2 linked regions of the Homo sapiens genome follow. The protein of the gene in region 2 purifies or fractionates together with the protein of the main gene of each other region. This does not show direct contact. Each region holds a gene or a part of one and is shown on either strand. Other genes may lie near its edges.

What was found. The genes of interacting proteins can lie anywhere in the genome.
Region 1: the proteins of COBLL1 (region 2) and SCML1 purify together in Homo sapiens (affinity purification with mass spectrometry, with the first as the bait; one large-scale study listed by BioGRID). This does not show direct contact.

What each region holds. Positions count from the first base shown.
Region 1 is NC_000023.11:17,735,993-17,740,292, reverse strand, and holds the start of SCML1 (sex comb on midleg-like protein 1), read right to left. Parts: upstream 2,801-4,300; 5' UTR 2,613-2,800; exon of another isoform or gene 1-2,612. UniProt on the Homo sapiens protein: Putative Polycomb group (PcG) protein. PcG proteins act by forming multiprotein complexes, which are required to maintain the transcriptionally repressive state of homeotic genes throughout development.
Region 2 is NC_000002.12:164,702,324-164,705,823, reverse strand, and holds part of COBLL1 (cordon-bleu protein-like 1), read left to right. Parts: intron 1-718; coding exon 719-872; intron 873-1,305; coding exon 1,306-1,380; intron 1,381-2,603; coding exon of another isoform or gene 2,604-2,720; intron 2,721-3,500.

The DNA.
Region 1 (4,300 bases), on a different chromosome or scaffold from region 2:
TTTTTATGTCTTTTAGGTACCAGGGTATGATGCAAGGAGCTGGGCTTTAGTTATAAACACTTGAATCCAAGTCCAAATTGCCAAATTTGCCGTTTCACTTTAGGCAAATATTTCACCTCTCTGTGCCTCAAATTTTCTAACCTGTAAAGTTGGAATAATATCTACTTCACAGGGCTATTTAGGCCAAAAATTACACAGTTAAACTCTCAGCATCATGCCTGGTTCATAGTAGACACACCATAAATTTTAATTCCTTTTCACTTCTTCCCATAAGGCAAACAATTACAGCTTTACAACATTGCCTTAGAGCCCAACCATGACTAGAATGTGCAAAATTAATTTCATTTTTAAATCTCAAATCCCACAAAATGAGTTTACTTAAAATGAAACTCATTTATATTTACCACAGAAATCTAAATTTCTTTTTTTTTTTTTTTTTTTTTTGAGACAGAGTCTTACTCTGTCACCCAGGCTGGAGTGCAGTGGCATGATCTCGGCTTACTGCAACCTCTGCCTCCCGGGTTAAAGCAATTCTCCTCCCTCAGCCTCCCGAGTAGTTAGCGTAACAGGCTTGCACCACCATGCCCAGTTAATTTTTGTACTTTTAGTAAAGACTGGGTTTCACCATGTTGGCCAGGCTGGTCCCGAACTTCTGACCTCAAGTGATCTGCCCACCTCGGCCTCCCAAAGTGCTGGGATTACAGGTGTGAGCCACCGCGCCTGGCCAATTCTTGATAACACCATAAATTTAAGTTCCTTTTCACTTTTTCCCACAAGATAAATTACAGCTTTACAACATTTTCTCAGAGCCCAACCATGACTAGATTCTACAAAATTAATTTCACTTTTAAACCTCAAATTCCACAAAAATGAGTTTAAAGGAAACTCATTTATATTTACCCCGGAAATCTAAACTCTTGATAATACCACACATTTTAGTTTCTTCTCACTTCTTCCCACAAGATAAATAATTTCAGCTTTACAACATTTTCTCAGAGCCCAACCATGACTACACTGTGCAAAATGAATTAATTTCACTTTTAAATCTCAAATCCCGTAAAAATGAGTTTACTTAAAATGAAACTCACTTGCATTTACCACAGAAATTTAAACTCTTAATTACACCATATACCTTAATTCCTTTTCACTTCTTTCCATAAGATAAATCACAACTTTACAACATTTTCTGAGCCCAACCATGACTAGATTGTGCGAAATTAATTAATTTCACTTTTAAATCTCAAATCCCATAAAAATGAGTTTACTTAAAATGAAACTCACTTGTATTTACCACAGAAATTTAAACTATTCATTACACCATACACTTTAGTTCCTTTTCACTTCGTCCCACAAGATTAATTACAGCTTTACAACATTTTCTCAGAGCCCAAGGCTAGATTGTGCAAAATTAATTAATTTCACTTTCAAATCTCAAATCTCGTAAAATGAGTTTACTTAAAATGAAACTCACTTATATTTACCACAGAAATCTAAACTCTTGATAACATAAGAACAAGAGGCCGTCTGATTTTCTAAAAGACTTTTTTTAGACATTAAAGACATTTTCAAAAGTCGTAAATATTCGCTCCGGAGGCGCAAGGCTTTCACCTGCCATTAATTCATCAGATAAGGCACAGCTCACAATGAGGCGCCACTCCCACCGGGACCACTTTGAGGAACACACAGCAAAACGCTCTGTTTGTTTTAAGAACAATCACTTTCTAAACCTTCCTGCGGGACTCTCAAAGGCAGCCCTTCCTTTGCCGCCAGAACCGCATCCCATCGCCCAGCACTTGCCGCAGGCCGGACAAGTGAGGCCCAAAAGGGCACCCAGCCCACGCCCCGCTTTAGAAAACACCGCGCGGCAAAGCTGCTTGGAAAATCGCTATCTTTTAGTCAACCTGAAGCCAGTTTGCCGCACTCGGGGAGAGCCGGGGAGAGGAGGGAGGGACGCGATCCGCCACCAACCAAATCAGGGCCTTTCCTGTTAACGACCACGCGGCAAGGGGGCCGGGCCCTCGCACGCCTCGACGGCCTCCCCCACTCCAAAGGGACTCCGATTTCGCAGGATCTCCCGCCTCCCGCCTCTGCTCCCAACACCCTACGTTTTTCTCTTCCTCCTCATTTACGTATTTACAATAAAACAGCGAAGCTGCACAGTCTGTCTCTAAATCAAACGCGGTTACCATCAAAGCCTCAGACTCTATGTCTCAACCGCAAAAGGTCTGACAGGAAATCAACTCGGGAGTTTGTCAATTCTTTAAACTCAAAGCTCTGTTAACGAAATCTGGATCCTTCCTCGCTCCCCACCTGCCTCCCCTGACAGGAGAATGACTGTAAAAGGATCCTGTCGTCCCCGAAAGTCAGCACCAAGCACTTCACAAATTGTCAAATCTCAAAAGCTTACACGCGCGGGCACTCCGGAAAGGCTGTGGGGACCACCCAAAGCACCCCCCTCCACACCGCGGCTGAAATTGGAGGCTGCGAAGTCAAGACTCGCTCTTCCCCGCAAAGCAAACCCTCTCTCCTCAGGAGAGCCCCGGCCCCTAAGCCAAATCGTGTATTCCCGTGACGGAAAGTTCAAGGTGAGGAAAAAGTACGACTGGACAGACCTATTTTAGTGACAGAGCCTGTCACGCCGGCCTCCGGAGGTCGCGGTAAAACTGCTCGCAGTAGTCCTGCCTCTCCGATGGGCGACAGCTGTGACCGTTAGGCCACTCGACGCTTCGGAAAGGTCCTGGCACCGGAAACCGGGCCTGGTCACGCGCACGCGAGACCAGTGATGCCCTGACCCCTGAGTGGATCAGAGAGCTCCCGCGACGCCGAATTCCCACACTCGCGGTTGGGGGGGGGGGGGGGGGGGGGGGGGGCGGGACTACCCGCTGACCAATCGGAGTCTGGCCACTGACAGGCGTCACCGTTGATCGGCCAATCCGCGGGTGCTCTCCCAGTCCTTGGGTGAGGGCGGGAATTTGCTAAGGAGATGGCTGTGGGGCGGGGCCGAGGGCGGGAATTTGCTGAGGAGATAGCTGTGGGGCGGGGCCGAGGGCGGGAATTTGCTGAGGAGATGGCTGTGGGGCGGGGCCTCTTACCTCAGGTTTTCCTTCGCAAGACCCGCAGGATTGAAAATGGACGTTAGGCCTTTCAGAGACTCGCGCGCTGAGTGGTTTCTGCGGCTGCGCAGGAGGCTGGCGCGCATGCGCAACCCTTCTAGTGGCGTTGTAGTTAGGGACGTGGTGTCCCCCCTTCGTTGTTGGGGTGTCCGAAGCTTTTTTTTTTTTTTAATGTGATCCCGCCCCTCCCCCGCGCTCTGTGACGCACCAGAGACGTCGTCGTAAACTGGGTTTCCTGGACGCACGCCAGTGATTGACTTGGAATGAGGAGAGGGGCGGGGCCTTAGCAGTTGCCCTGAGCCAGGTCTGGTAGGAAGGGCGAGGGGGGCCAGGGTGGGGGGCGGGCAAGATATTTCCAGTCTCCAGCACCCACAAGTTGGACTGGGGAACTAACGCAGACCTTGAAGGCAGATTTACTGGATTGGACCCCCAGCTCCAACACAGTCCTCCTATGGCCTTAGGCAAGCCAAGTAACCGCTTTGTGCTTCGGTTTCCCCATCTGTAAAATGGGTATAATATGGGGACTACATGAGTTAATGTATGCAAAGCACTTAGAACAGTACCTGGCATAGAATTTTGCTATTGTAATAAAGGCTATGTGACATCATCTAGTGGCATATAGTCTTACATACTTATATCGAGGCTGCTCATCTTGGGAAGGAGACACAGTCTGAGTAATTATCAGAAGCAAAGCAGGCAGATATTTCAAAGTAAAGCTATACATCTTTTCTTGGCCCAGAGAGGAGCTACAAAGAAAGTATACTGGACGTTGGAAATGTATCATTTTTCCTCTCAAATACGAAGCTAGATTAAAGCCCATTATAGATATAGTATATGTTTTTTTTTTGTTTTTGTTTTTGTTTGAGACGGAGTTTTGCTCTTGTTGCCCAGGCTGGAGTGTAGCGGTGTGATCTCGGCTCACTGCAACCTCTGCCTCCTGGGTTCAAGCGATTCTCCTGCCTCAGCCTCCAGAGTAGCTGGGATTACAGGCGTCTGCCACCATGCCCAGCTAATTTTTGTATTTTTAGTAGAGACGGGTTTCACCATGTTGGACAGGCTGGTCTATGTTCTTTTTGCTCCTACTTTTGCCATAACAGACCCTGCCCTTATGTCCTGTTGCCTGTAAAACACTGTTGCGAAGCCCCAAGAAATCAATTACGTAACAGTGAAGAGAGAAACCGGTTGTT
Region 2 (3,500 bases):
TACCTCAGGTGGTCTGCCCACCTTGGCCTTCCAAAGTGTGTGAGCCACACTTTGGAATTACAGGTGTGAGCCACCTGAACAACTCTTTTAAATAGTTATTTATTCGTTCATTCATTCATTCATTCATTCTTGGTAAAGGCAAAGAGCAAAGATGACATGGCATTTGGTCAGGAGGCACTGACCCCTGCTGAAGGAGGATGTCTTAGGGTCTGCTGACAGTCACGGGCTAGGAGTGTGAGCAGTAGCTCTTTGCAGTAGGTGACCTTGAAGGACCTGGCCTCAGGTAGACATATAGATTTTTGCAGTGTTCCTCACTGAAACACTGCAGCTGTAAAGAGGTAGATTTAATCAAGCCAAATACTACTATACAAATAATGTTCCCTTTTTCATCCCTTCCTTTTAATGTCTCCAGATTTTTCTTTAAAAGTTAGGTTTTAACTCTGTTACTTATGAGTCCTCTACATTACAGTTAGTTGTTTGTGTGGCAGTTTCCCATTCTAGCCCAAGTTTCTTGAGAAAGGCCGTATTTTATTTTTCTTTACATATCTATCCCATAGCCCAGCTTCTGTGTGTGGCAGATGCTTCATAAACGTTTTTAAGGAATGACTGTTATGTTCCATTTGGATATATCCTGTGCTTGACGTAAAGTTCAGTGTCTTCCTAAAGTTTGCTACTGATTTCTAAATGTAGGATTTTATTTGGTCATTTTGTTTTCCAGAGTCCCTGTGAAGCAGGAAGAGTGAGGGCAGGTTCACTGCAGCTCAGCAGCATGTCTGCAGGGAATTCATCTTTGAGAAGGACAAAGCGAAAAGCACCTTCCCCACCCTCCAAAATACCCCCGCATCAAAGTGATGAAAATAGTCGTGTGACTGGTAATGTGGTTGTTTCATTAACATTACATTTGTATTGTGTTTTGTTTAATATGGACAGTAGGAAAGATATGGGTATGTAAGTTATGCTTTTTAAATAATACTTAGGCTTTTTAAATACATCTTGATTAGTCTCACTTTGCTGCCGTTTAAAAATCTGAAACATCACCAAATAAAGTGTCAAAATTATACAGCTCCATTATCCTAAGATGAGCATGTCATAATCTGTGAATTTATTCAGAAAGATGCTGCCATTTCAGGATTAGCTGTATGTAGAAAAGGGAGTCTAAGTGGATTTTAGTGTTTTACAGCTAGATAGTAAAATGGCTTCTAGCAAGGCTTACTGCTTTCTGAACTATATAACTAAGTTAAACTGTTAAGGAATTGTTTTATTTGTGAATATGACTTTATAAGTTGTGTTGCTTCTTTCCTTTAGCCTTACAGCCAGTAGATGGAGTTCCTCCAGACAGTGCTTCAGAAGCAAACTCTCCTGAGGAGCTATCCAGCCCAGGTATGACACCCTTATTCTACATGGTGTAATTACTGAAAAAGGACGTCCATGATAATTGAGAAATGAGTCCATTTGCGATGCTTTGTACATGAAAGAGATACAGATTCTTTGGCCTCATTTCCCAAATTTTTATTATGAAATAAATTCTTGCCCCCACCCCTCTGCCCCTCAACCCAATTAGAGTATGAAGCTGGCAGAGATCAAAATTTCAGTTCTGGAATTGTCCTTGAGTACTTTTTCTATGTGGTCTCCTGCTTTCCTTTATGCAGTATCAGGTTAACATTTATTAACCTCCTTCCCAAGTGTAATGACACACCGTAATTAGGAATGTACCTTGGTGTGTGCAGAAGAAAACTTACAGGAAAGTGTAAGCACAATTTCTTGATGCAACTGTTCTAGGTATGAACTCAACATACAAGTTACCCTACTCTAATGGTAAAAATCTGTTACCATGAAAATGTTTTCTGTTGCAGTATATGGCTCTCCTCTAGGATTCTTTCCAAACAAAATTCCATTACAAGTTACATAATTTATAGTAATACTTTTCCAGTGTTTTTAATAATAGCTACTTAGTAGCTTTTCTAAGAAGTATGATAAAAATGTTTTAATCTTTAGAGTTACTATTAGACATCAATGAATGTGATAGACTAGTAATATCATACCAAAAATAGAATATGATTATGCTAGGACTTTATCATGGGGATAATTCTGTAAGTATAAAAAATGCTTAATATGACTCGCCTGATTTTTATAATTTATATTCCAAATACAGGAAACATTTAGGAGGAACACTCTTGAATCTTTCATCTTTAAGTGGTATTTAAGAATTTGGAATTTTAGCATATATATGTAAGAATTCTTCACTCCTCTGTGATTTTAAATCTTACTCTCAGATAACTAGTAATGATTTTTCTCAGCTTTTACTCAGAATAATATAAATGGCACCATTTTTTTCCACAAAGGAAATGTATTGAATAATAACAATTACAACTGTTGAGTGAAATTAGAAGTCACTGAAATATTATAAAAAGGAGTGCATGCTATTCAAACTTTGCTTCATATCTGTTTTTCTTCATTTGTTTTTTTCCTTTTACCTCTTCTTATTTAATGCATGGATAATTGTGAGCTAACAAATCTGATTTCTTCCAAAATGCTTCTTGGTCTCTGCTTGCCTTAACTCTGTTGTCTAAGTGCCATTTCTACAGATTCTACTTCTTTGGCAGAAACCTTTCACCCTGGGCTTTCCAGTCAGGAGCAGTGCACTGCGCCCAAACTGATGGAGGAAACCTCTGTCTTTGAGTGCCCTGGGACACCTGAGGCAGCCATAACATCATTGACATGTAGGTGGTCAGGCCTTTCCTGGCTGGTGCTTTGTGTCAGGCAGGTTAAGATATCATCGACTGTAAATTTGATGAGCTATTGAAACCTTGTGTAAACATATTTTATAAAGAAAGAGAAGTTTCCCCTTTTTCACTTGAAATTTTATCTGGGTGTAGAGTTTGTTGTTTTTCCCAACCATACAGATGAATACAACAGAGTGGATTAGTTAAATAAAATCAGTGGTTCCGAAGAATTTTAGCTTCTCTTCTATTTGGCTTATATATACTGAGGGGTCACTTTGAAAACACAATTGAGGCTGGGCATGGTGGCTCACACTTAAAATACCAGCTACTCATGAGGCTGAGGTGGAAGATTGCTTGAGCCCTGAATTTTGAGACAGCAGTGAGCTATGATCATGCCACTGAACTCCAGCCTGGGTGACAAAGCAAGACCTTATAATAAAAATTAAAAAACACATTTGTATCTAAACCATCATGGCCTTTCATTTTTTTTCAATACAGAGTTTTCAAATTATTATTATTATTATTTTTTTTTTTTTTTTTTTGAGGAGTCTCACTGTTGCCCAGGCTGGAGTGCAGTGGCGTGATCTCGGCTCACTGCAAGCTCCACCTCCTGGGTTCACGCCATTCTCCCGCCTCAGCTTGCTGAGTAGCTGGGACTACAGGCGCCCGCCACCACACCTGGCTAATTTTTTTGTATTTTTAGTAGAGACGGGGTTTCACTATGTTGGCCAGGATGGTCTCGATCTCCTGACCTTGTGATCCGCCCTCCTCAGCCTC